Linked DNA regions of Homo sapiens: regions 1 and 3 are each linked to region 2. The links come from fine-mapping of genetic effects on gene expression. A gene starts in region 2. Each other region holds a variant in brackets. All regions are shown on one strand. Distances are from middle to middle.

Region 1 (8,163 bases), 32 kb after region 2:
GGTCTTCAACCCTCAAAACACTTCCTGTTATTTAAATCTTGGTCCTTTGATTTTTTTTTTTTTTCCTTTTAGAGACTATGCACAATTTATGTGGCAAGCTAGAGATGCTTTCTTTTTCAGAGCGGCCTTTATGCTGTGTTCGGGGCTGTCTGTCGGCGCCACAGGGAATGGGGGCTGGTGAGTCGTGCTCAGAAGGTCCCAGTCTAGATGCTTCTGACATGGACAAAAGGAGAATTCCTGACTTTTTGGTGGATGTTTGCAATTCCCAGAATGCTTATTCTTATTTAGTCCTCATAGGAGAGTGGCGAAGGGCAGCAGCTTTGGAGCAAGGGCCACCCTGCCCCTCCCCACCAAGCCCTGAGTCGTCTAACCTTCCCGGTGTATTAGTCAGCTCTGGCTGCTGGAAACGGGGTCATAGTCTGGGTGCCTTAAACAACAGGAATTCTTTTTTTTTTACAGTATTGGAGGCTGATGTCTGAGACAGGGTGGCGGCAGGGTTGGTGTCACCCGAGGCCTCTCTCCTCGGCTCCGTGTAGCCCTTTCTCCCTCTGTTCTCACACGGCCATCCCTCCGAGTGTGTCTGAGTCCCAGTCTCCTTGTGAGGACACCAGCCCTAGATCAGGAGCCACGCAGTGACCTCATTTTACCTTCATGACCTCTTCAAAGTCCCTGTGTCCAAATACAGTCACATCTGGAGGTAGTAAGGATTGGGGCTTCCACATAGGGGTTTTGTGGGGGACACACTCAGTCCACGTTAACTCACTTCCTGCCCACGGCAGGGGCTCTCTGTCAGTGTGTCTCCGACTGCGGACCCCGATCATCTTTGTGAGAATGCAGGTTCCCAGGCCCACACCGTGCTGGTTGAGTCAGAGCTTCTGGGTGCAGCCTGGGGGTGCAGCAAGCCCACCCCTGCATTCGGAGAGCCTTAGCGGGAAGCCTGTTGCTTGTGCCTCCTTTGCAGCCCCGGCCTCTCCAGTTCTCTGTGTCTTGCCATCTTGGCTTCTTCCTCATCCCGCCTCTCGCTCCATCTCGTGGCCTCCCATCTGCTCTCCCGGCTGCAGGAGCGGTTTCTCTAAGCCTTGCAAGTGACCGCACCCTCTTACTGCATGCGGGCCTTGCCAAGAGCCTGCAGAGGGCGGGGCGGGCTCTGGGGACAGCCTGGACTCTCCTGCCTGCCCCCAGGTGCCCCCGGCCCAGCCACAGGGTGCTGGCTGCCTGTTACTCAGCACGTCCGCCTCTCCTGCCTCCTGAGCCCACAGGCGCCCTTCCTGTCACCCGAGCGCCCTCTCCTTCCTCACCTCGCCACCTACGCATCGTCACCCCTCCTCCTGCGTTTCCTCCTGTCTCCCCGGGGAGCTCGGAGTTCTGCAGGCACGGGGCTGGCTCCTTTCTTCATGTCCCTTGTCCCACAGGACACCGTTTCTGAACCCAGGAGACACTCAGGAAACCTTGCTGGTGGAACGGATGCAGCAGCGAGGTTTTCCGGGGCAGGAACACCCTCCCAGGAGCTTTTCCACGGCCAAGCGCTGGCTGGTGGTGGAGCTGCGCTGAAGTCAGTGTGTGCTTTGGGCCCAGCTGCACTGTGCCCGGGGTCCAGGGATGGGTGTGAGGCTGTCTGCCCCCCACTGCACGCCCGGCTGTCAGAGGCATCTGTCTCTTCCCCCGCATGCATCTTTCTCCCCGTCTGGCATGGTGTTTCTAGTCTTTTGTGGATGGGGACATAAACAAGCCGCCATCAACTGCTTGGTGACATTGGCCAATCCTGTGGTGGCCCCAGCTGGGCTTGCTGCCTGTGTGTGGTGAGGGTGCCCTTCTTGTCACCCGTTGTCATTTACGAGACAGCCCTGTGTCACCTGTTGATTCAGAGGGAGCTCTCCTCATCACCTGTTGTCATTTATGAGCCCCGTGTCACCTGTTGTTGCTTCACAGGGAGCACTCCTTGTCACCTATTGTCATTTATGAGCCCCGTGTCACCTGTTGTTGCTTCACAGGGAGCACTCCTTGTCACCCATTGTCATTTATGAGCCCTGTGTCACTTGTTGCTTCAGAGGGAGCGCTCCTTGTCACCCGTTGTCAGGTGTACTCACTTTGCTTCTCCCTTCCTGCTTTTGGGGACGATCACAGGACAGTGGCTTCAGAGGGGAAGTACCTCGACCTGGCTGAGGTCATGCCCAGAGCCTGACTGCTCTCTCCACCCACCCATGATCCCGTCAGCTTCTTCCCCCTCCTTCTCCATCTGATCTGAGCATTTACCATTTCCTTCCATTTAAGCTTCATTTGAGTTGCATCATGATGTTCTCCTTTTTTCAAAGTTCCATCTGCCCACAGGTTTCCATTTTCTCTAGAACCCTCCTCCTTCCTCTCTAGCCCCTGGCCCGCCCCTCTGCGGTTCTCAGGAAGCCCCTCGGTGCCCCCTGCCCCTTATCTAGAACAGCTTCTGCCTAGGGTGGGCAAGGCAGGGTGGGAGGTGGGGGGTAGCCGTGCAGGGAAGGGGTGAAGCGGGCCCCTGTACTCCCTAGCTGGGCTGCAGGCTTGGAGGAAAATAAGAGTCAGACGCTTGTTAAAACAGTGAGGACAGCTTTATTCGAGGAAAATGCAGTCGGGGTTGACCTTATCAGCAGGGGAGAGATCAGCCCAACTCCTAATACAGCAAGGAAGGGACAGAGCTGGGAAGTGGAGTGGGCTGGGTGAGTGGAAAGTAGCTGCGAGAAGACATCACAGGTAGGGGGATTCTTGCCAAAGGCAGGGGGGGACTTTGATGTCAAAGGTGGGGATGAGGACTGATTGGATCTCAAGGGTGGTCAGATGTGAAGGGCGTGAGAGGCTCACTAAACTGACTAAGCAGGATTCTTGCTGAGACTGGGCCAGGCAGGCTGAAGACAGGAGGCAGAAAGAGGGCTCAGAGGAGCCTGAGTGAAGTTTGATCTTGGGGTGAGGGGTGCAGGGGGGAGGGGCAGGGTGGGTCTTTGTTGGGGCTCTGTGGGAGATTTCAGGGCTCACTGGATGTGTGGGGCACAGTGGGCCCTGCCTGAGCCCCATGACGCCTGGACGCTGCCACCAGGGGCCTGACCTGCTGACGATCTCTGCACTGGGTCTTTAATCAGCCTCTTGGGCATTGTAAATGCTAGACAAAGATTCTTCTCTTTTTAAAGTTTACTAATTTCCCTACGATAAAACTAATGCATTTTCACAGGAGAGACTCGGGAAATTACCAAGGAGCGTGAATCAGGTGGTCACAGTGAATTGTGGATGTTTGTGTCTGTCTTGGGGAACTGGTGTAACGTTTCTCCATCTGACCCCTGCTGTCTGTTGGAGGTCAAGGAGCCAGCCTGGCCTCACAACTTCCTCCTTTCAGCAAAGTCAGGAGGCCATTCCCTCCAGGGATGGGTGGGCTGCAGCCTCTTGGCACCTCTCGGGATCCTGCTGGCAGATGTATCACCGTAGCCCAAGCCAGCCTAAGCCAGCCTCCTGTGGCCCAGCACCTTCTCTTCCCACGTGGGCAGCTGTGTTCCCAGGCAAACCTTCCTGGAATTGCTCTGTGCTCTCAGAGCTGGTGTGCTTTGGTGTTCAGCTGTGGCCATTTTGGCTTTGAGTTTGATTTGATTTTTGAAGAAAGTTTTTATTTCTTTACCCA[A/G]ATATTCTATGTCTCTTTGGTAAGACTGGAAAACACAGAAAAACAGAGAAAAAAATTCCCCCATAACTACCCTGCCCACCTCCATATAACTTTTATTAGCATTCTGAGCTATACCCCTCCAGACTCATTTCTGCCTCTCCAGAAGTGTGCATAAAGTCTAGAAACATAGGTGAAGAGACCTAATGCCATCAAGAACATCAACCTGTAAAGGAATAAAATAATGTCATCTGTGTCCAGATTTTACAGATGCTTTGTAGATATGTGTAACAGAAATGTGGGTATGTTTTAGCAAAAATAAGACCATATTTTTGTTTTATTTTGATTGATTGTACTATAAATTCCAGTAGAGCATTACAGAGCCAGCCCAAGCCCATCTCTCCTCTTCTCTACTCTTTTCTTTCCCCAGTGACCAATAGCCACTCTGCGGAGGGAAGTAGGGATCATATTTGTGCGCGTTTTACGCTCTTGCTACACATGTGCGTAACCTTAAACAAAACATTAGTTTTTATGTGTTAGAAATACTCATAAATGGTGGCCCAGGCATGGTGGCTCACGCCTGTAATCCCAGCTCTTCGGGAGGCTGAGGCAGGAGGAGGCTTGAGGCCTGGAATTCAAGACCAGCCTGGGCAACATAGCAAGACCCTGTTTTGTTTTGTTTTGTTTTTTAAACAAACAAAAAAACCAACAACAGTTAGGTGGGTGCAGCATCATGTACCTGTAGTCCCAGCTCTTCAGGAGGCTGAGGTGGGAGGCTCTCCTGAGCCCAGGAGTTTGGGGTGATAGTGAGCTGTGGTCACACCACTGTACTCCAGCCTGGATGATGGAGTGGAGTGAGACCTTGTCTTTAAAAAAAAAGAAAAGAAAACAGAAAGAAATACTCATAAATGGTATATATATATATCACTTTGTAATTTGTTCTTGACTACTTTGTCAACAATTTTTAAGCTGTATCCATGTTGATACATAGATGTGGTTCATGGTCTTCTTTTTTCTCCTTTTTGTTAACTGCTGTATACAATTCCATTGACTTTTTTTTGAGGCAGGGTCTCGCTCTGTTACCCAGGCTGGAGTGCAGTGGCACGATCTCGGCTCATTGCAACTTCCACCTCCCAGGCTCAAGCAATCTTCCCACCTCAGCCTCCCAAGTAGCTAGGACTACAGGTACATGCCTGGCTAATTTTTGTATTTTTTATAGAGTCAGGGTTTTGCCAAGTTGCCCAGCCTGGTCTTGAACTCCTGAGCGCAAGTGAGCCACCTGCCTTGGCCTCCCAAATTGCTGGGATTACAGGCGTGAGCCACTGTGCCAGCCCCCATTGTCTAAATAAGCCATCGTTTCTCTAGTCATATACAGTTAGGTCACTTCCATTTTTTCATTAGTATAAAGAGTGCCATATGAATATTGATCCTCCTTGAGTGCTGTGGAAGGAAGCCTCTAAGATGCCGCCACTGGTCCCCACATCCTGGTCTTCACACCCTTGTGTAATCCCTTCCCTCGGGTGTTGGCTGGACTTAACTGACTTGATTCTAACAAATAGAACACAGCAGGAGGAATGGGACATCACTTCTGACATCAGGTTATAAAAAGACTGCAGCTGCCAGCTTGGGTGTTCTCTGTTGCCCTCTTGGATTGCCAGCCCTGGAGGGAGCCAGATGCCATGTCTCAAGGCAGTCCTGTGGAGAGGCAGGCCTAGGTGACAAGGGACCAAGGCCTGCCAACAGCCATGTGAGTGAGCTTGGAAGCAGATCTCCATCCGCTCCCCACTCCCAGCTGAGCCTTCGGATGAGACTGCTGCCCTGAAAACAGCAAAGGGGAACCTCATGAGAGACCTTGAGCCAGATTCCCAGCCCAGAGAAATTGTGAGATAATGTTTGTTGTTTTCGGCTGCTGACTTTTGGAGGGTCATTTGTTACACGGTAACAGATAACCAATACGAGCACACCCTGAGAATTCCTTAGAGGTCTAGAATATTTAGCAGTGGAATTGCCAGGTGCTATGGTATTCTCACGCTCAACAGTACTGTTTATTACTAAATTCATCTCCAAGGCATTTGTGGCAGTTTCACTCCCCTCTACAAGGGTCAGTGAGCTCCTTTTCCTCATACCTCTCCGGCACTTGTGTTGTCAGACTTTAACATCTGAACACTCTGATGGGTGTAAAATAGTATCTCATGATTATTTGAATTTGTACTTCCCTAAGTTCTAGTGAAGTTGGACATATTTTCGATACATTATTGTCCTTTCTGCTTTCCTCTGCTGTAAATTAATTGCATGTTCGTATCCTCTGCTGTAAATTAATTGCATGTTCATATCCTCTGCTGTAAATTAATTGCATGTTCGTATCCTCTGGTGTAAATTAATTGCATGTTCATATCCTCTGCTGTAAATTAATTGCATGTGCGTATCCTCTGCTGTAAATTAATTGCATGTGCGTATCTTCTGCTGTAAATTAATTGCATGTTCGTATCCTCTGCTGTAAATTAATTGCATGTTCGTATCCTCTGCTGTAAATTAATTGCATGTGCGTATCCTCTGCTGTAAATTAATTGCATGTGCGTATCCTCTGCTGTAAATTAATTGCATGTTCATATCCTTTGTCCAGTCTCCTTTTGGGTGGATTATCTTTTTCTTAGTGATTTGTAGATTTTCTTTTTTTCACTCTAGAGACTAATCCTTTGTCAGTTCATGCTATTTTATACTCTGCTTTTTTCAGTTAGCAGCGTATTGAGAATGTTCTTCTATGCCAATGTATACATCATTTTATTGACATTCCATTGTGGAGATGGGTCATTTATTTATTTAGGTGGACGTGTAGGTTGTTTGCACTTTTGCATTAGTAGGAACATGACTGTGTGTCGGTCAGCTGGGCTATGCTCTGGTACTAATGACCCTCCAAATCTTAGTGGTTTGCAGCAATGAAGAATTCTTTGTCCCTCAAGTGACATGACCATCACCTGTTGGTTGTGGCTCTGCTCTATGACGTTGTCCCTCAGGGAGCCAGGCTTTCAGAGCAGCCCCATCTGAGACATTGCTGGTCTCATGGCAGAGGGAAAAAAGATGGTGGAACAACATAATTCTATTTCTGTTTTTCCTCTTTAGAGACAGGATATTGCTGTGGCACCCAGGCTGCAGTGCTCTGGTGCTATCATAGCTCACTGCAGCCCCGGAATCATGGGCACAAGTGGTCCTCCTGCCTCAGCTTCCCAAGTAGCTGAGACTATAGGTATGCACCACCACACCTGGGTAATTTTTACTTTTTATATTTTTCGTAGAGATGGGGGCCTTGTTATGTTGCCCAGGCTGGTCTTGAACTCCTGGCCTCAAGTGTTCTTCCCACCGCAGCCTCCCAAAGTGCTGGGATTACAGGTGTGAGCCACTGGACCCGGCAGGAACAATATACCTCTTAAAGCTTCTGCTCAGACGTGGGAATGGCTATGTGGTGCGTGTCAGTTCCCCTCACATTGCATTGGCTGAAGCAAACCCTGGGGCCCAACCAGTGTTGGCGGGGTTAGAAGTAGACCCCTCCCATAGGGAGGCCAGGGAGGGAGGATTTTGAGCCAAGACCACTCACCACGTGCTGTGATGAGCAGTTGCCTCCCCCTCCTTTCGTGTCTTCGTGCCTCCTCACGTATTCTTACAAGTAGAATTGCTACATTAGGAATATGCATATTTGTAAAGTATTTACTATTTATTATGTCAGCTAGGTTTTAACTGTCACTGCATTTGCTGTGAATTATAGGTAATTATTCATCCTGATGACCATTTAAAAAAGAAGAACAATATTATTAGGTAGAAATAGTCCCTGGCTCCCCGGTTGCCCACCGTGACTATAACAGCATATCTAGCTTGGTAGTTTTCAAATTATTTCCACGTTTTATTTACTTCTCACAGCCTCCCTGTGGGGTTGCAGGTGCTTCTCCACTCCTCCACTGACAAGGTGCCTGAGGCTCAGAGAGGCTGAGAAATGTGCTCTGGGCTGCACAGCTGGGGATGAGGCGTAGACCCTGGCCCTGCTCTGTTCTGGGCTCTTTCTCCTCCACTCTGGCCTTTGGAGGCTGTGGCTAAGATCTTCCCCCAGCCCCTTCCTTCCCACCTTCCCTTCCTGCTCTTGTGCCCCGTTTTTCACAGTCCTCAGTGGCTGGTTTCTCAGTCCCCCAGGAGGTGCAGGCTGGTTCTTAGGAATGGTCTCTGTCAATGTTCCCGGCAGTACCTCCGAGCCTGCCCTCTGAGGATGGGTCGGCCATGGCTGCGCCGGCTTAGTCTGTATTTAGGTATCACTGACTATCACTGGACTTGGGGAGGGGATTTACTATTTTTAGAGAAAGTCAGGGGAGCTCCATAAATCCTGTTAGTCAACAGAACTGCAGAGAGGTGGCTGTTTATGAAGGAGAGTGACTTTTTTAGAAGTGGCGCATTTAGAAGACCACATATTCTATCATTCTGTGTACATGAGCGGTGCAGAATAGGCAATTCTAAAGAGACAGAAAATAGATTCGTGATTGCAGGGAGTGGGGAGGAGGGATGGGAAGCGA
Region 2 (8,178 bases):
AGTACCTCCTAAAAGTCCTATCTCCAAATACAATTACATTAGAGGTTAGGGCTTCAACAAAGGAATTGGGGTGGTGGTGGTCCACAGCAGGGGAGGGGATATTTTAGTTTATCTTGAGCTTGCAAGGATGAAGGGGAAAGAGCGGGGGTGGGGGGGTGGCATCGGAACCTGCCTCTGAGTCACACTTCCTGGATGAGCCATGGGCCACAGCATCTGTATCAGGAGTGGTTACAAAACAGCGTGCCTCAGGGATAAACAAGCTGACCTAATGATCCAATTTTCCCAGCTCTGGTCCATCTACAGATTTGAGGCAGGATCCAGTGATTCTGCTGGCTGACTGGTCATGGTAAATTTCCAACTCTCCCCTTTCCAGGCACGGCTTTGGTTTCCTGCTGCAGCTGCTGCTGGGGAGTTATCAGGGCATTTCCTCCGCCTGTGAGCTCCTGGGGTCAGGGGAAGGTTGGGTGGCCAGAGATGCTGCCTCTACCCTAAGTCAGCGTCACCCATGCTATTCCCAGCAGCTGCATTTCTCCACTCTGTAATTACAAATGAAACTGGGGAATAGAATCAAAAGAGTACCTAGAAACAAGCTAGCCTCTACTTCCTCAAACATTCTGGGGCAGGAGTTTGTGCGCTGGAACAATGTTATTTGCAAGATTCTCCCTGGTGGATATACACTCAAGTATTAAAGTGCTACAAGGAATTAAAAAAAGAATAGTATTTCTTCCAGAGCCTGTGTGGGCCCAGCACAATGACACTGAATCTGGCTGTTAAACCTGGCTGTTGCTGATTCTAATATGTGGCCTTGGACATTTCATTTTTCCAAGTATAGCTTTCCTCATCTGTAAAATATGGAAACAATCTTTAGAATGTCGGAGATAGTGTATGTAAAGGTACTTCAGAAACAATAAAGTCCAAATCCCAATGACATTTTTTGCAGAAATAGAAAAACCCATCCTAAAATTCATATGGAATCTCAAGGGGCCCTGAACAGCCAAAACAATCTTGAAAAAGAACAAGGCTGGAGGACTCACACTTCCTGATTTCAAAACTTACCACAAAGCTACAGTAATCAAAACAGTGTGGCACTGGAATAAAGCTTGACATATAGATCAATAGAATAGAATAGAGAGCCCAGAAACAAACCCTTGAATATATGGTCAAATGATTTTTGGCAAGGGTGCCATGATCACTTAATGGCAAAAGGACAGCTTTTTCAACAAATGGTGCTGGGAAAACTGGATATCTACATGCAAAAGAATGAAGCTGGACCCTTACCTAACACCATATACAAAAATTAACTCAAAATAGATCAAAGACCTAAAAGTAACCTAAAACTATAGAATTTTTAGAAGAAAACTTGGAGCAAAATCTCCACAATGTTGGATTTGGCAGTGATTTCTTGGATATGACATTAAAGACACAGACAACACAGAAAAATAGACAAATTGGATTTCATAAAAATTTGGTGCATCAAAAAGCAAAATCGGGCTGGTGCGGTGTCTCACGCCTGTAATCCCAGCACTTTGGGAGGCTGCGGTGGGAAGATCACTTGAGGTCAGGAGTTGGAGGCCAGCCTGGCCAACATGGTGAAACCCCGTCTCTACTAAAAATACAAAAATTAGCCAGACCTGGTGGCGCACGCCTGTAGTTCCACCTACTCGGGAGGCTGAGGCAGGAGAATGGCGTGAACCCACGAGGCAGAGCTTGCAGTGAGCCGAGATCACACCACTGCACTCCAGCCTGGGTGACAGAGCAAGACTCCGTCTCAAAAACAACAACAACAACAACAACAACAACAACAACAACAACAACAACAAAGTGCTGGCGGTGAGGATGTGAAGAAATTGGAACCCTGTGCACTGTTTGGCAGAATGTAGAATGGTACACTGTGGAAAGTATTATTATGATGCTTCTTCAAAAAATTAAAAATAGAATGACCACATAATCCAGCAATTCCACTTCTGGGTATATACCCAAAACAACTGAAAATAAGATCTTGAAAAGATATTTGTGCACCCATGTTCGTCGCAGCATTATTCATAATTGCTAAAATGTGGATGCAACCCAATGATTTCTTGACAAACGAGTGGGTAAACACAATGTGGTATACACACACATGGAAATATTACTCAGCCTTAAAAAGGAAGGAAATTTGGACATACACTACATCATAGATGAATCTTGAGGACATTATGCTAAGTGAAATAATCCAGTTGCAAAAAGGAAATACTGTATGATTCCACTTATGTAAGGTATTAGAGAGGTAGTCATTATTTAATGGGTATAGAGTTTCAGTTTTACAAGATGAAAAGAGTTCTGGAGATGGATGGTGGTGCTGGTTGCACATCATTAATGTATTTAATACCACTGAGCTGTTCACTTTAAAAGGATTAAGATGATAAATTTTATGTTATGTGTATATTATAATAAAAGTTAGAAAAAAATTGTCATAAAACTAAGTCAGATATTAAGAACAATCAGAATTACTTCTGTCTTGTTTACAGTCATCATATGAAAAACAAATTGTTTATCTAGCATGACACCTGTTATGGGTTGAATTGTTTCCCTCAAAAGATGCTGAACTTCTAACCCTTGGTACCTGTGAATGTGACCTTATTTGGAAATTGGGTCTGCACAGATGATCAAGTTAAGATGAGGTCATTAGGGTGTGCCCTAATCCAATAATGACTGTGTCCTTATGAAAAGGGAAAAGAGACAGGTATATAGAGAAGATGTGAATTCACAGGGAGCGCACATGGCCATCCATAAGCCAAGGAATGCATGAGGTTACCAGAAGCTAAGAGACAGACATGAAACAAACTGCCCCCCACATCTCTCCAAAGGGGCCAGCCCTGCCAACACTTTGATCTTGGACTTCCAGCCTCCAGAGCTACAAAACAACACATTTCTGTTGTTTAAGTTGCCCAGTTGGAGGTGCTTGTTACATTAGCCCCAGGAAATTATACAACATCTTACCTGAATTTGCTTTCTTCTTTGCTCTAGTTAAATTCAAAACTACATATTGAATAACGACGGTGTGCTCTCTCTCCATGAAGCTTCGGGGTGGGTAGACAGTCCTCCTCTTGAAGGAACAGGAGGGACGCAAGGGAAGGGACCAACTTGTATCTCATCTGAGAGAGATACACTCCTGGAATAAGAGGTCTGCGGTTAAGTGTGTTTCTCTAGAAGTTCAGAAACAGAGGAAGCATCTGCGGGCTAAGCTGCTGAGGGCTAGGTGAGAGCTAACTGACCTAAGTTTTGAAGGATGGATGGGTGACAGGTTGGAGGGGGAAGATGGAAAAGTCACATGGGAGAGGAACAGCATGGGCCAAGTGTGGAGGAACCAGTGAGTGGGCTGGGTTTCAGAAACAGGCCTTGGTCTGCTTTTGAGCCCTCCCTGAACTTTTCCACCCCAACCCCACCTCCTGCCTGTGTCTGCCATGCACCTCCCTTCCTGTGAGTCTGTGGACAGACTTTGCCCCTTTGCCCTGTGTGTGCTTGGGAGAAATCTGCTCAGTTTCTGTGGCAGGGATGTTTCTACGTGTTCATCAAACCGGCTTTGTTTACTTCCGAAACACTCATGAAGACCACAGCTGCCAGAGCCCCTTGCATCCTGGTGGGACTGTGCGACTACTTCTGGCCCATGGATGTGGGTGGAAGTGACGTGTGCTTCCCCAGGCCTGGCTCCTGGACCCCACCGACGGCTTCTCACCTGTAACCCCACCAGCCTTCTACCTGGATACTTCACGGGGAGCTAGAGTGGCCTTGGCTAAGAAGGAGGCATGGCACCCGCGGGTACCGGGCCGCCTTCATCAGTCGGTGCACTCTGGTCCACCGCCCACATGCCTTCATGTAATCTTCACTGTAGGGCCCACAGGGAGGGGAACTTCCTCGAGGTCTAGCTTTGCCTTTCCGCCTTCAGAGCCAAGTAAGAATGAGGGGTCTGGGCTCGGCCCACCTTCCCTGCAAGGCCCTGTGCCCGCTCCCCTCAAAGCTGGTCTTGCATGTTGCTCTGGCGGCCTCTGTAGCAGGAGTTCACTCTGTTTTCCGTGGAGGAGGAGTGGAAGGAGGGATTCAAGCTCTCCCCTAGAGACGCTAGAAAGACAGTTTTGTCTCAGCCTCATACGATCGCCCAGCTCCACATTTCTGGCTGTTTCTGTGGTTACCTTTCTTCGGGGATGTTTGGGGCGGGAGGTGGGTGTGTGTGTATATTTGCTCTTCTGAAGCCGTTTTTCCGGAGCTCCTGGTGGGGGTGGGGGTGCTCTGTCCCTGGTTCCTCTCGAGGCAGGTGCAGGGGATGGAGGATGCCCCCCTCCCCGAGAGCCAGGAGGCGCCGACCCTGGGCAGGAGGTGCCAGACCGGCGCCTCTCCCGCGTGGAGCTCGAAGACCACAGATGCCTGGAAGGGAGGAGCACCTTCCGTGGTTAGGTGGGGAAACCGAGGCAGAGGCGGCCCAATGGACTCGCCTAAACGGCCTGGGGAGTCACTGCAGGTAACCAGAGCTGGAGCCAGGCTTCCCACTCCAGGCCCGGGGCTCTCCCCCGAACAGGCGTGGGAAGGGGTGCGAGCTGCACGCGGGGCTGGGGCTGGGGGTGCGGGGCTGGGGCAACTCGGCTCTTCCCCTTCCTAGGCCGCCCGGGCCACTTCCTGCGGCGTGGGGGCGGGGGGCGCGGGCGCAGGGCTGGCCCCTCCCGGGCGCCGCCTCTCGGCCTCTTCTATACCAGCAGGCCAGAGGCCAAGGGTTAGGGGAACAGAACCGGTGCCCGGCTCCGCCCCTGTCCCGAAAGCCACTGGGGGCTGGGACCCGGCAGGGCCAGGTTTGGGCCGCGAGGGCCGAGGAGCAGCGAGGTGCAGGGGCTGCGAGGGCCGAGCCGGGCGCTGAGGGTCCGGCAGGGGGCGTGGAGGGGGCGGGGCCCGGAGGGGGCGGGGCCGTAGGAAACTTGAGCGCCCGCCTCTGGCCGCGCGCCCCGCCCCGGCCCCCGCCTCCGGGTCCCGCCTCCAGGTCCCGCCTTCGCGTCCCTTCCTTCCCGGAGCTGGCAGGCGGGCCGCGGCGGCGGCGGGCAGCGGACGGGCGGACTGACGGGCGCCTCCACCTTGCTCCCTCCCTGGCTGCCGGCTTCCTTTTGTCTTTCTGGGCGGCGATGAGCGCAGGGCCGGCGCAGCAGCTGCGGGCGCACGGAGGCCCGCGCTGCTAGTCACTCCTCCCGGCCTCGGCGCGCTTGTCCCGGGCAGCGGCCCGGGCCCGCTGCAGCCGCCGCCGGCGCCGAACTTGGGCTCGGGAAGCCGGCGGACCGCGTCCTGCGCCGGAGCAGGTAGGGAAGGGGCGGGCTGCGGTCTGCTGGCTGCTGAAGTGTGCCCCGGGCGTGTGCACCCGGCGTGTGCACCGGCGAGCGCTGCGATCCGGCTCTTTGCGTGTGTGTTGTGCGCGCGTGTGTGTGTCCGGGAGTGCCCGCGTTTCTCTGCGCGGTGGAGTTGTGGGTGACTGCGGACGGTGGTGTGTCTTTCGAATGGCGTGTACTCGTGGGCATCCATGTGTGCCTTAGGTGTGCACATTTTGGACTGCGTTTGTGGAATTGTGTGTCGGGGCGCAGTTGCTGGTGGGGAGCGGTGCCTGGCGGGTGTCGTGTGTGAGCAGCTGTGCGCAGAGCGGGGTGGCGGGGTGGGTGTGGGTGGTCCAGCCCCACGCCCAGAGCCCCCTGTCCCTGCTGGTCGGCGCAGTGCGTAGCTTAGGAGCCTCGAGGACAGCTGGGACCCGACGGGCAAGGGCGGGCCTCGCGGGCAGGCTGGGCAGCCCTCAGGGAACAGGTCCGTGCGGCCCACGTGGGTCGCCTGTGAGCTTCTGCCAAGGGTGGGGGCCCACGCGGAGGCGATCCGCTCGTTCCTCCCAGGGCCATGGGGCGACGAGGAGAGCCCTGGCCTCCCCGCGACCCGCACTGCGACCTGGGCCAGACGCGCCACCTTCCCCGGTCGCGGTTTGCTTCTCTTTAAAATGAGGACAGCTCCTCCCTTGGGGGCTGTGGTGACAGGTGAAATGAGAACGCACTGAAGACAGCTCTTGGTCCAAAGCCCCGCACACAGTAGGTACTGTGTTAATTGGATTAGCGTCTCCTGTTTAAAATCCTTTTTTTTTCCCCTTTATCGTGGGTGGGGCCTTACATTTTCCCCGGGCGTGTTTTGTGCCTCTCCCTGGCCCTAACTTAACCGCGAAGCACTGAGATTCGAGAAAGTTTAGCTGCCAGCTGCGCTGCCTCCTGCAGCACCTCCCGGGCGGCGCCGCCTCCGCGAGTGCCCGAGAGCGCCGCGCTGGGCGCCGGCCCTGCCCCAGCCCCCAGGCTCCCGCGCAAGCGTGGGGGTCCCTCTCCTGGCCGGGAGGCAGCGACTGCGGAGTTGAGAACCCTTTGGTTCAACAAGTTCCTAGTCCGGGAGGATGCAGCTCAGCTCGTGGAGTCCGAGAGTCACGGCGTAAAATTGGCGCTTCCCGCACATGCAGATCTCGGGCTCCCGGGGTGTCCCGGCCGCCAAAGGCCACCCCTTTCCTCCTGGCTGACCCCAATTCCACCAGAGGAGGATGTTTGCCAGGGACGCCGAGTCCAGCTGCTGGCCTCGGCATTAGACAACCCCCAGCCCCAGCCCCTGCCATCCCTGCTCCCTTGCAGCCAGCCTCATGCCGGGGGTGCCACATGGGACACCTCCTCCTAGTCCCACACCTTAATTTAAAACATTTACTTTTGAAACCTACTAGTCGTAAAATTGAACCGCAGTGAACGAGCACCCAGCTCTTACCACGACTCACTCTCTGGAGAGTTCTGGCGCCTCGGCGCTGGCTCGGACGCAGCAAGGCCAGCTCTAGGGGTCGGGTGGCTCTCGGCCAGAGCGAAGGATATTCTTTCCCTTCATCGCCTTGGTGTCTTTCTCTGGGGGAAAAAAATCGCCTTTAACCAAGGGAGCCAAGATCTCACCAGTGCAGGAGGCTCTCAAAATGGAGCGCCGGCATGGGGTTGGGCTGCGGAGGGGACAGCATGGGCGGCCTTTTGGTATGGATGCGCTTCCCAACTGTCAGGGGCTACGTGATGGTGTTCCCAGAGAGGCGGGCTGCTTTGCGGGCTTTTAGGAGCCAGGGATAGAAACCTGGTCCGGTTCCTTTGGTTTCCCTCGGCCGAGACTGAAGCCCTGCAATCCTAGCCATGGCAGGCCAGGGGGATGCGATGAACTCATTTTCTCATTTTTCATCCTGACTTAGTGACAGGGGCACACTTAGAATGCACCCTGTTTTCTGTTTCATCAAATGATTTTATGTCCTACAAGAAAAAAGGGCTTTTGGTGTGAATCCTACTCTTTCCTCATAATCAGGTTCCATAATAATATTAAAAAAAAAATCAGTCTGGCTTTCTCAGCTCAGAAGACAGACCCAAACCCAGGTTTGTGTTTTGTTTTGTTTTTGTTTTTTTCTAGTTAAAGCCAGCCCTTTGTCTCAAGCAAGCCAGTGTTTTGGCCTTAGATCTATTTCTGTTTCACTTTTGAAAGTGCCTGTAATTACTGAGCTCTTGAGGTTTTATTGGATAATGTGGCAAAGGGAAGGCCCGGGGGCCCTGCCTCTCCCTTGCGGTGGGATGTGGTGCCACGGTGGCACATTCTAGCCTTGCCTGCTCCCTCTGCGTCCCACTTTCATGCTGTTTTTAAGGTGGAACAGAAATGTCAATGTGTGATAACAATTTGGGAGACTTTGTCTTTGGAATCCAATAAATGGAAGGTCCTTTGATCTGTGGAGAAACCAGAACAAGTCAAAACCCCAGAAGAACAGAGATTTGCCCAAACTCCAGCCAATGACCCATTTATTTCCAACAAGCCCTCCTAGAGATAGATTCTAAGTGAAATACAAGAACGTGGACACACTCCGTCCCCTTTCTGGCCACAGGGCTGTGCAGAATTAGAAGTGCAGTCTATGGAAGGACAAGGACTGGACTTCGCTTGGTGCAAACGCCCCAGCCAGGCGCCCCATACTCACCTAGCACCATTTCACCCTGGAGCTGTTTCCTCCTGTTGAAGCGCTGGTGCTCACACCCCCTACCTTCAGGGCTCTGCAAGCACAGTTCCAAGGTCTGCAGCGCGGGTACAGTGCATGCCCTGCTGAGTGTGCGTCAGAGCAGTTGTCTCCCTGTGACACTTATTCTAAGA
Region 3 (8,178 bases), 100 kb after region 2:
TTCACAGCCCCTTCCAATCTCGTGCATATTAAGGTTGATAAAAACACCCTCTTCAGGGTCAATGCGAGATCAGACCTGGAGTGAAGTGTCCCTGTGGTATCTGGACCAGCAGGACCTGGCTGCCCCACAGCTCCTCCTCTCTCTCCCTCCTCCCTCTCATGGTCTCATGACTATTATGGTGACTCTTGTCACTCACCACCCTGCCCCACCTGCTCCTGCATACTGTGAGCATCAGTTGGGGCCATGGATGTAGCAAGGGTCAGCTGTCATAGGCTCCCGGGGGGACACCTGGGGGAGGGACATTTGGGGACAGAGCCCCATCTGGCCATGCCCAGCCCCTGAGAGCCCTCATCACCGACTTGCATCTGGTGAGTTTGGCAGGGTCCTGTATAAGGATTAAAGTCCTCCAAGTCCTCATACAAAGTCGCTTTCCAAAAGTCTGGAATTTTCTTGGCCCTAGACACGGGAGATGCTCTTTATAATTTTCATCTTCCCACTCAGAAGGAACCACCTTTGAATACTCAGCCAGGCTAAAATTTGGACCCAAAACCTGTTAAAGCATCACTGTCTTAATTTCAGTGTTCATGATGGGGTTCTGGGCTGTGTGAGGGGTGGAGGGCAGATACCAGTGGCAGGTTTCATCTGTGGCCCTGGTAGATGTGAGTCCCGCAGCCGGTCAGCCCAGGGCCCAGGGCAGACCCCGGGCGTGGCTGCTTTCCCGCTGGGCACCAACGCACGCACGTGGTGTTTCCAGGGCAAAGTGAGCTCCCCACCCTCTGCCCGTCCCCTGCCCCGCCCTTAGATCTGCATCCCGTGGGTGGGGTGGGTTTTCCTGCCTTCCTCTTCCTGAGGGAGGCGATTTCTCCTTCCGCTTTCTCCTTGCCACAGTAGCTGCTGGGTTGGGAGGAGACATCCAGGCTGGGGCCTCAGCCTCAGGGTGCCAGTTAGCGTGTGGTTAGCTGAGAAAAAAGTATTTTTCTCAGCAGAAAATAGACACAACTGCATGTGAAGGGGCCACTTCCACTCCTTCATTCTCCATCCACCAGCCTTACTGGAGCTAGAGAGTGGGGGAACATCTGGGTCCGTGTTACCTGGATGTCACCTGCATACAAATGTCCTGGCCCGAGGCCACTGTCAGCACGGGTGCACAGGGGAGGCGCCTGGCCCGGCAGGTCGTGCTGAGGCTGATACCCGTGTCAAGAAGCTGGAGCAGGCGAAGAGATCAGAAGAGGGTAGAGGAGGTGGTCCGAGGTGTCCATTCCCATCCCCAGACCCCTGGGGCATTTCAGTGCACGCACAGCAAATAATATCACTGCACCACCACCACCACCACCACCACCACCACCATCACCACCACCACCACCACCATCACCACCACCACCACCATCACCACCACCACCACCATCACCACCACCACCACCACCACCACCATCACCACCACCACCACCACCACCACCATCACCACCACTACCATCATCACCACCACCACCACCACCACCACCATCACCACCACCACCACCACCACCACCATCACCACCACCACCACCATCACCATCACCACCACCACCACCATCACCATCATCACCACCATCACCGCCACCATCACCATCACCACCACCGCCGCCACCACCGCCACTGCCACCGCCACCATCACCGCCACCACTACCGCCACCGCCACCACCACCGCCACCGCCACCGCCACCACCACCACCACGAGTTGAGGGACTCTGGGATCAGAAGGCACTTTCCAGCACATTCACACCATTGGCCGTGGATGTTGTGGGTCAGGTGATGGGCACTGGAAGGGCCTTCCGCTTCTCTCTGCCCCTGGCCCTTGGTCATGTACAGCAGGCCGCTCCCCGGGCAGTGGAGAAGCAGCACCTGCATACTAAGGCTCGAGTCCCAGCCTCCCCTACCAGCCTCCCTCTCCACGTCCCCAGACACTCATGCGTTCCTTCCCTTGAGGTGGGTTCATGGAGCACGTACCCTGTGTCAGACAAGCTTCCAGGCTCTGGGCTTCTGATGGAGAACAGACCAGAGTAAACCTGGCCCCAAGGACCTTGAGCTCCACTCAAGGGGAGACAGACAGTGAACTCAACAAAACAGAAATGAGAGAAAGGATCAAGCTGGAAAGGGGATAAAGAATGAGTGTCGGTTTTGGATAGAGTGCTTGGGGAAGGCCTTCCTGAGATGAGACCTGACCAAAGGCCTGCAGGAGGTCAGGGACGGGCGTGCTTCTAGCTAAGGAGCAGCTGGTGCAAAGGGCCTGTGGCAGACGTGCACCCGTGGCAAGGAGGGGGCGAGCAGGCGGCTCAGCCAGGTCGGAGTGGGTCACACCTGAGGGGCAGGACGCTGGCAACCCCGACCGCTGAGGAAGACAGGTGCGAGCAGCATCTCGGCACAGCCAGACCCCCACCATACGGCAGCCCTCTGTGTCCCTTAAATAAGGATGCCTCCTCCCAGGCTTAAGAGATCATTGTTGCTCATAGTGATTTGTGTAGCCAACAATTCTTCTGGAAGAAGTTAGATGAACAGGGCCATGGAGATTTGGGGCCGGAAGAGCAGGACCCCAGGCTTGCCTCCCCTCTAGTGCTGGCCAGGCCGTGGATCCCAGGCGGGCATCTCAGAGAGCCATCTGAGCGGCCTTTCTGGAAGTGCCCTCCTAGGCAGACGCTGGTCATGAGGCAGGGCAGCGGGGAAGGGACAATCCTCCTGTGTTGTACATTGAGGGTTATATTTAGGGTGACTTGGGATGACTTGGCAGTATCACTTCCTGTGGTCGTCCCCTCCAGCCCTCAGCCACGGAGGGCAGATCCTGTCTGACAAGCATTGTGGGCAGACACGTGCCTGCACACACGTACACACCCACATGCACACATACACACACGCACACACATACACACATTGTGGGCAGGCACAACTTGGCATTCTCATCTGCCCTGGAATTGGTGGAGGGCTGGGGACATTGTCCTGGCCCTTCTGCAGGACCGCCAGGTGCCTGGCGGGGGAATCCTAGCCGTCAGCATCTCCGGAGCATCTGCTCCATGTCGGGCTCTGTGTGAAGGGCTGCATCCAGATCCCACATGAGCAAGACCGGCCTAGCCTCCCCATCTGGTTGGGAGATGCCAGGCAGAGGTGGAAGGAAGGGCGGCTGACCTGCCCCTTAGTCTGCTCAGCCACACAGGCAGCCACAGCCGAGGCTGCACAAGGACACTCCCCTGACCTTGCTGCCTGCTGGCCCCGGGTCTCCAGGCCAGGTCCGAGCCAGCCAGGCTCCTCCCCACCCATGTCACCGGCCTCTCTAGGTGGAGTCCACAGTGATCTTTGCTCCCCTTCCCCAGGCATCCAGCACCACACCAGGCACAGGGCCTGGTATTTCTGGGACAGCCCAGATTACACGTTTTCTCTCAGTTACCCCCTAGAATATTCTTGGACTTCTCAGACCCCATGTGCAAATTTTTAGCTTAGAAGTAATCACTGGGATCATAGACGATGTTTAGCAAATATCTGTTCTTTTGGGTGTTCCTAGGCCCCCAGAGGGTCTCCGGGAAACTGGCTCTTTTGCTGAGGCTAGAGACTATCTGGGCTAGAATGTGTCTGATGGGGCTCTCGGAGGGTGCACAGACAGTGCCGCGGTGGCCGAAGATCCACTATTCCAAGGCCGGATCTGCAGAGGATTTGGAAGTTGTCTGTAAGGAGCGCCTAGATCACCCGGACCTTCTCTCTCCCTCCTTGACTTCCTTCCTGCCTCTCGTCAAACAATTACTGTGTGCTTCCTGTGTTCTAGGCGCTGTGCTAATAATTGGTTATGGGATTATTCCTAGCCACACCCTGGGTAAATGGAACCCAGCTCTCTGTCCTTGGGAAAAGGGTCAGGAGAGAACTGGGGCCCAGCTGGGAAGCTGGAGGCTTGAGGCTGCTGGTCCATGTTGGAATGCTGTCTCCCTCTGCCATCCAGCACCCAAGCCCGGCGCCAGGCTCAGAGCAGGAACTGAAGCTTTTGCTGTTGTTGTTGTTTTTGTTTTTTGAGACAGTCTCGCTGTGTCTCCCAGGCTGGAGTGCAGTGGTGTGATCTCAGCTCACTGCAAGCTCCGCCTCCTGGGTTCAAGCGATTCTCTGCCTCAGCCTCCTGAGTAGCTGGGATTACAGGCGCGCACCACCACGCCCGGCTAATTTTTGTATTTTGAGTAGAGACGGGGTTTCACCATCTTGGCCAGGCTGGTCTTGAACTCCTGACCTCAGGTAATCTGCCCGCCTCGGCCTCCCAAAGTGCTGGGATTGCAGGCATGAGTCACCGCACCCGGCCAGGAACTGAACCTTGGTAGGAGAAGGAAAGAAGGAGTTCCTGTCTTGCTTTCCCGACCAGACTGGAAGCGCTCTGAGGGCGTTTTACACTTCGGTGTCTTCCCAGCACTTAGCATTGTGGCCTGCATGTAAGGGGTGTTCCGTGACTGCGTGTTGATTACACTTTGTGTGTATGGGTGGGTGCGTTGCCACAACTCTCCCTGCAGAATCTGTGGCCTCTGGTGCTGTGATTTAAAGACTAAAGATGGCAAAGAGTGGCTTTTATGAGCTGCCCCACTCCTGATTATAAACACACTCTCTATGAGTCAGAGGCCTGGGTGATCATGGATAAGTCACTTGCCAACAGTTAACTCCAGACTGTAGCTGCTGGGGCCACCGAGGGCGGCTGGAACATCACCATTCTGTGCCTAGCGTTTCAGCCGGGCTGAGGCCATTTTATTAATAATGATTTATTGTTTTTATTGCTTCCCAGAGATATTAAACATGAATCAAATAATGCATGTGATGATTCACTGGAGGTTCCCTTCCAAATTTAAAAAAGAATTAAAGAAAAAGTTTTTGACGGGTGTGCTGGTGTGGACACCAGGCAGGCACCTGAGAGCCCTCCCACCTTGAGCTCAGCCGTGGGCAGCACAGCACAGGGTGGACCTTGCCCTGCAGACAGAGCCATGCAGCCTGC[G/A]CAAAACCCCAGGGAGGACGCGCGTCTCACAAACACCTCTTCAGTCTAACATTTACAATGGTATTTCTTACAAATGGTTTCCACCCGAGATATATTACAATGTGGCCAAACCCCATTCATTTGGGACACATAAATTCAAAATTTGGAAATAGTTCCTTTGGGGCTCATGAACTGATCAAGTTTAGTCATTTCTCAAGCAGGGACCTGGCAGAAATGTTGCTTTTTACCATCTACTAAGACAAGAGCTAGGCAGCTGGTTCTGCTGAACAAGGTCCCGGGGAGAGGGACACCAGTCCTGGCTCAGTGAGCAGCTCCTCAGGTGCTTTGGAAGCCTCCTCTGGGGATAGACTCAAAGAAGTTTTCTATTTATTTATTTATTTTTCTTTATTTTTAAATGTTTTTCTCAAGGATGTTTTTTAGAGCTAGCTCATACCTCAGGGGCCACACTGTCCAAACACATATTGGACCCTGATGAGGAAAGTGAGAGCCGTCAGGGTGTGTGACATAGCCACTGTCACCCAGGCCTCCAGCTCCATTCTGCAGTTGAAAATGATGCCCTCATAACAAAGAGTTCTTTTGTGTGTGTGTGTGTGTGTGTGTGTGTGTGTGTGTGTGTGTGTGTGTGTGACGGAGTCTTGCTCTGTCACCCAGGCTGGAGTGCAGTAGTGTGATCTTGTCTCGCTGCAACCTCCGCCTCCCAGGTTCAAATGAGTCTCCTGCCTCAGCCTCCTGAGTAGCTGGATTACAGGTGCCTGCCATCATGCCTGGCTAATTTTTGTATTTTTAGTAGTGATGGGGTTTTACCATGTTGGCCAGGCTGGTCTTGAACTCCTGACTTCAGGTGATCCGCCCACCTCACCCTCCCAAAGTGCTGGGATTACAGGTGTGAGCCACCGAGTCCGGCCAACAAAGAGTTCTTATCCGTTCATTACAAACGCCCACTCTTTCCAGTCCTTACCTGATCAAGAATTCAGAGGCAATTTTTCAGGTATTTTTTTGACTCGGACTTTACAAATTTGAACTACCATTCAAGTAATTGGTCTGAATTCCTAAGTTTCGATGGTATTTTTCTCTTCCTTCTTCTGGCTGCCTCTCCTCCCCATACCCTGCATTTGTTAATGTACCCATTTGTTCCATATTCTGTTTGTTCTTTATTGCTCTATACACTGCTCCATAATGTTCTCTATCATTTGTCCATTCATTACCCATGAAGGTACATGCAGAGGTCACCAGCCCAGAGGTTTGTAGCAGGGACAAGTTACTTGCTGGTGGTGGTCTCCCCAAAAGTTTGGGCCTGCGAGTCATTGACACCTACACACTTTGAAAACACCCCAGGATGAAGTCTGGGACTGGAAGGAGCTCCCACCTTAGCCAGACTCTGGCCTCCTCCCCAGCTGTGTCCCCGCCAGCCCTTCTCCAGCCATGCCCTTTTGCCTCCCAGCACACTGAGGATTCCTCCTGGAATGCCCCTCACCCCGTCTTTGCTGGGTGAGTGTTTCCCCAGCCCCGCTGAGCTCAGGTATCAGCCCCAGCGCTCTGGGTAAGTCTGGGACCATCTCCTACATTGTCTGCAAAATCCTGCAGAAAGCCTGGCCTGTGCTGGTCAGCAGGATGCTGCGTTTCCTTTTAAACAGACCCAAAGCAGTCAGCAGCCACAGACTCCCCAGAGACGGAGATGAGAGGAGGGACCTCATGCCCTGAGGCAGCCCCAGCCTCACTCCCATGCCCTGCAGGCGCTGAGCAGCCCCCAGATCCCGGGCTCCTTTGCTGCCCCAGGGTCGGGCAGTTCTTGCATCTTGGACCGAGTGGGCTCTGCCCTGCTGTGGCATGACTGGGCTTCTTCTGTCCTTTTTCTTTATTTTCTCTTTGAAGAACAGGAGTTGGAATTTCACTCACCCTGCCCCAGCTGGATGTGTCTAGGCCACCGTGGTCCCAGGCTCTCTGCCCAGCTGGGCCTCAGGACCAGGTTTTAATGCCGCTGCTTGGGTGTGCCGAGCGAGAAGGGCTCGCCAGGCAGTGCAGAGATTCCACCGAGCCCAGGCCGCAGCCCCCACCTCCCGCCGGGCTGTGCTCAGTGTCAGGAATCGGCTCCCAAGATGGCCGCCTTTCTTGTAAAGCTGTGCCAATACCCCAGGCATCTGACTGGTGCTTTCCAGCTGGCACTCCTTTTACAGATTCCATTTCCCTTTATCCTCACAACTGCTCAGTAGAACCTGCAGGCAGGGACCCTTATTCCCATTTTACAGTCAAGGAAAATAAGGCCCAGAGAAGTTGAGACAGCCAGGACCATATGGCTGGAGACGGGGCAGGCTGGGCAGAGCCCCCAGCAGGGCCCCTGGGTCTGCGGGCTGCTCCCAGCAGCACCCCTCATATACACACCCTCATCCTGACTGCAGGCCCCTGAAGCTGGCATTCTGGTTCAATTTTACAGAGGAGCAAACAGGCTGGGTCTGGAGCGTTGACACTGGCAACTCTAGCCCAGCCTTGCCTGACTCCAGGGCATGGCTCCAAGACCCTGGAAGAGCTGCCTGTCCCTCCATGGCCCCTCCAGGGCGTGCTGGGTGCTGGCAGGGCAGGCTGAGGCACTCGACAGCAGAGTTGGCCCCGTAGTCTCAGTTTTGCTCCCGCTAGGGTGAAACACGGTTCCCTGGGGAAGGGCTGTTGCTCACCTCTTGGCCTGGAACATCAGGGTGGAATTTGCAGACGGAATTCTGCCATCTGACGCGTAGATCTTCCCCCCAGGCATGGGTCAGTGCTTGAGTCATTCTGCAGCTGGCACAAAGAGCCAGGAAGAATGCGCTCCAAGATGCCTGGGAGCTGGCATGCCAAATCACCAGGCGTCATCAGCACAGCCAAGCCAGGGTGGGGGCCTCGGGCAGGAGCAGCGCCCTGCCAGCTCTGGCTGACTGCACGAGGGGCCACATCTAGAGGGACTGATGAAGGGGCGTCTAAAGCCTCAGTATCTCCAGCCTGCTGTGCCCTCTTACATTTTCTCCCAAAGAGCAGTCAGCTTGCAGTATGCGCCAAGTCCCCGCAAATGGGACGTTGGGTGATTCACATGGTTGTTTCAGCTTTTGAGTTTTTGTTGTGTGATTGAATAGTAATAGAATTATTCTTGGTGTTCTATGGAGCATTACCGGGTAGTGGGGAGGTGGGCACACTGAGCCTCTACTGTTTCTCCCCTTCACCCCTCC

Alleles and levels. Positions count from the first base shown, and alleles are read on the strand shown. Sizes are in standard deviations (SD) of each study's normalised expression. Not every link is listed here.
In carriers of allele A in region 3, the expression in neutrophils of the gene that starts at base 5,042 in region 2 tends to be higher than with G alone (moderate effect, 0.48 SD a copy in CEDAR).

The links. PIP is the estimated chance that this variant, and not a neighbour inherited with it, causes the effect.
Region 1: its variant is fine-mapped to the expression of HPCAL1 in whole blood (INTERVAL, PIP above 0.99).
Region 3: its variant is fine-mapped to the expression of HPCAL1 in neutrophils (CEDAR, PIP 0.93).

Annotation. Positions count from the first base shown.
Region 1 is chr2:10,330,034-10,338,196 of GRCh38, forward strand. All of the region lies in intron 1 of HPCAL1 (hippocalcin like 1), which reads left to right. Among named protein-coding and RNA genes, the nearest start is that of HPCAL1, 31 kb to the left of the region's middle. RefSeq lists enhancers at 921-1,020, 1,551-1,750, 1,580-2,167 and a silencer at 1,131-1,180. The variant A/G (reference allele first, on the strand shown) is at 3,635.
Region 2 is chr2:10,297,863-10,306,040 of GRCh38, forward strand. It overlaps HPCAL1 (hippocalcin like 1), which reads left to right and starts at 5,042. Exons shown (of 5, transcript NM_002149.4): 1 at 5,042-5,315. It overlaps LOC101929691 (a long non-coding RNA gene), which reads right to left and starts at 4,855. Exons shown (of 4, transcript XR_922791.3): 1 at 3,716-4,855; 2 at 2,980-3,151. RefSeq lists a cis regulatory region at 1-562, enhancers at 61-355, 5,617-5,676 and silencers at 4,577-5,356, 5,241-5,438, 5,757-5,936.
Region 3 is chr2:10,397,894-10,406,071 of GRCh38, forward strand. All of the region lies in intron 2 of HPCAL1 (hippocalcin like 1), which reads left to right. Among named protein-coding and RNA genes, the nearest start is that of SNORA80B, 45 kb to the right of the region's middle. The variant G/A (reference allele first, on the strand shown) is at 4,985.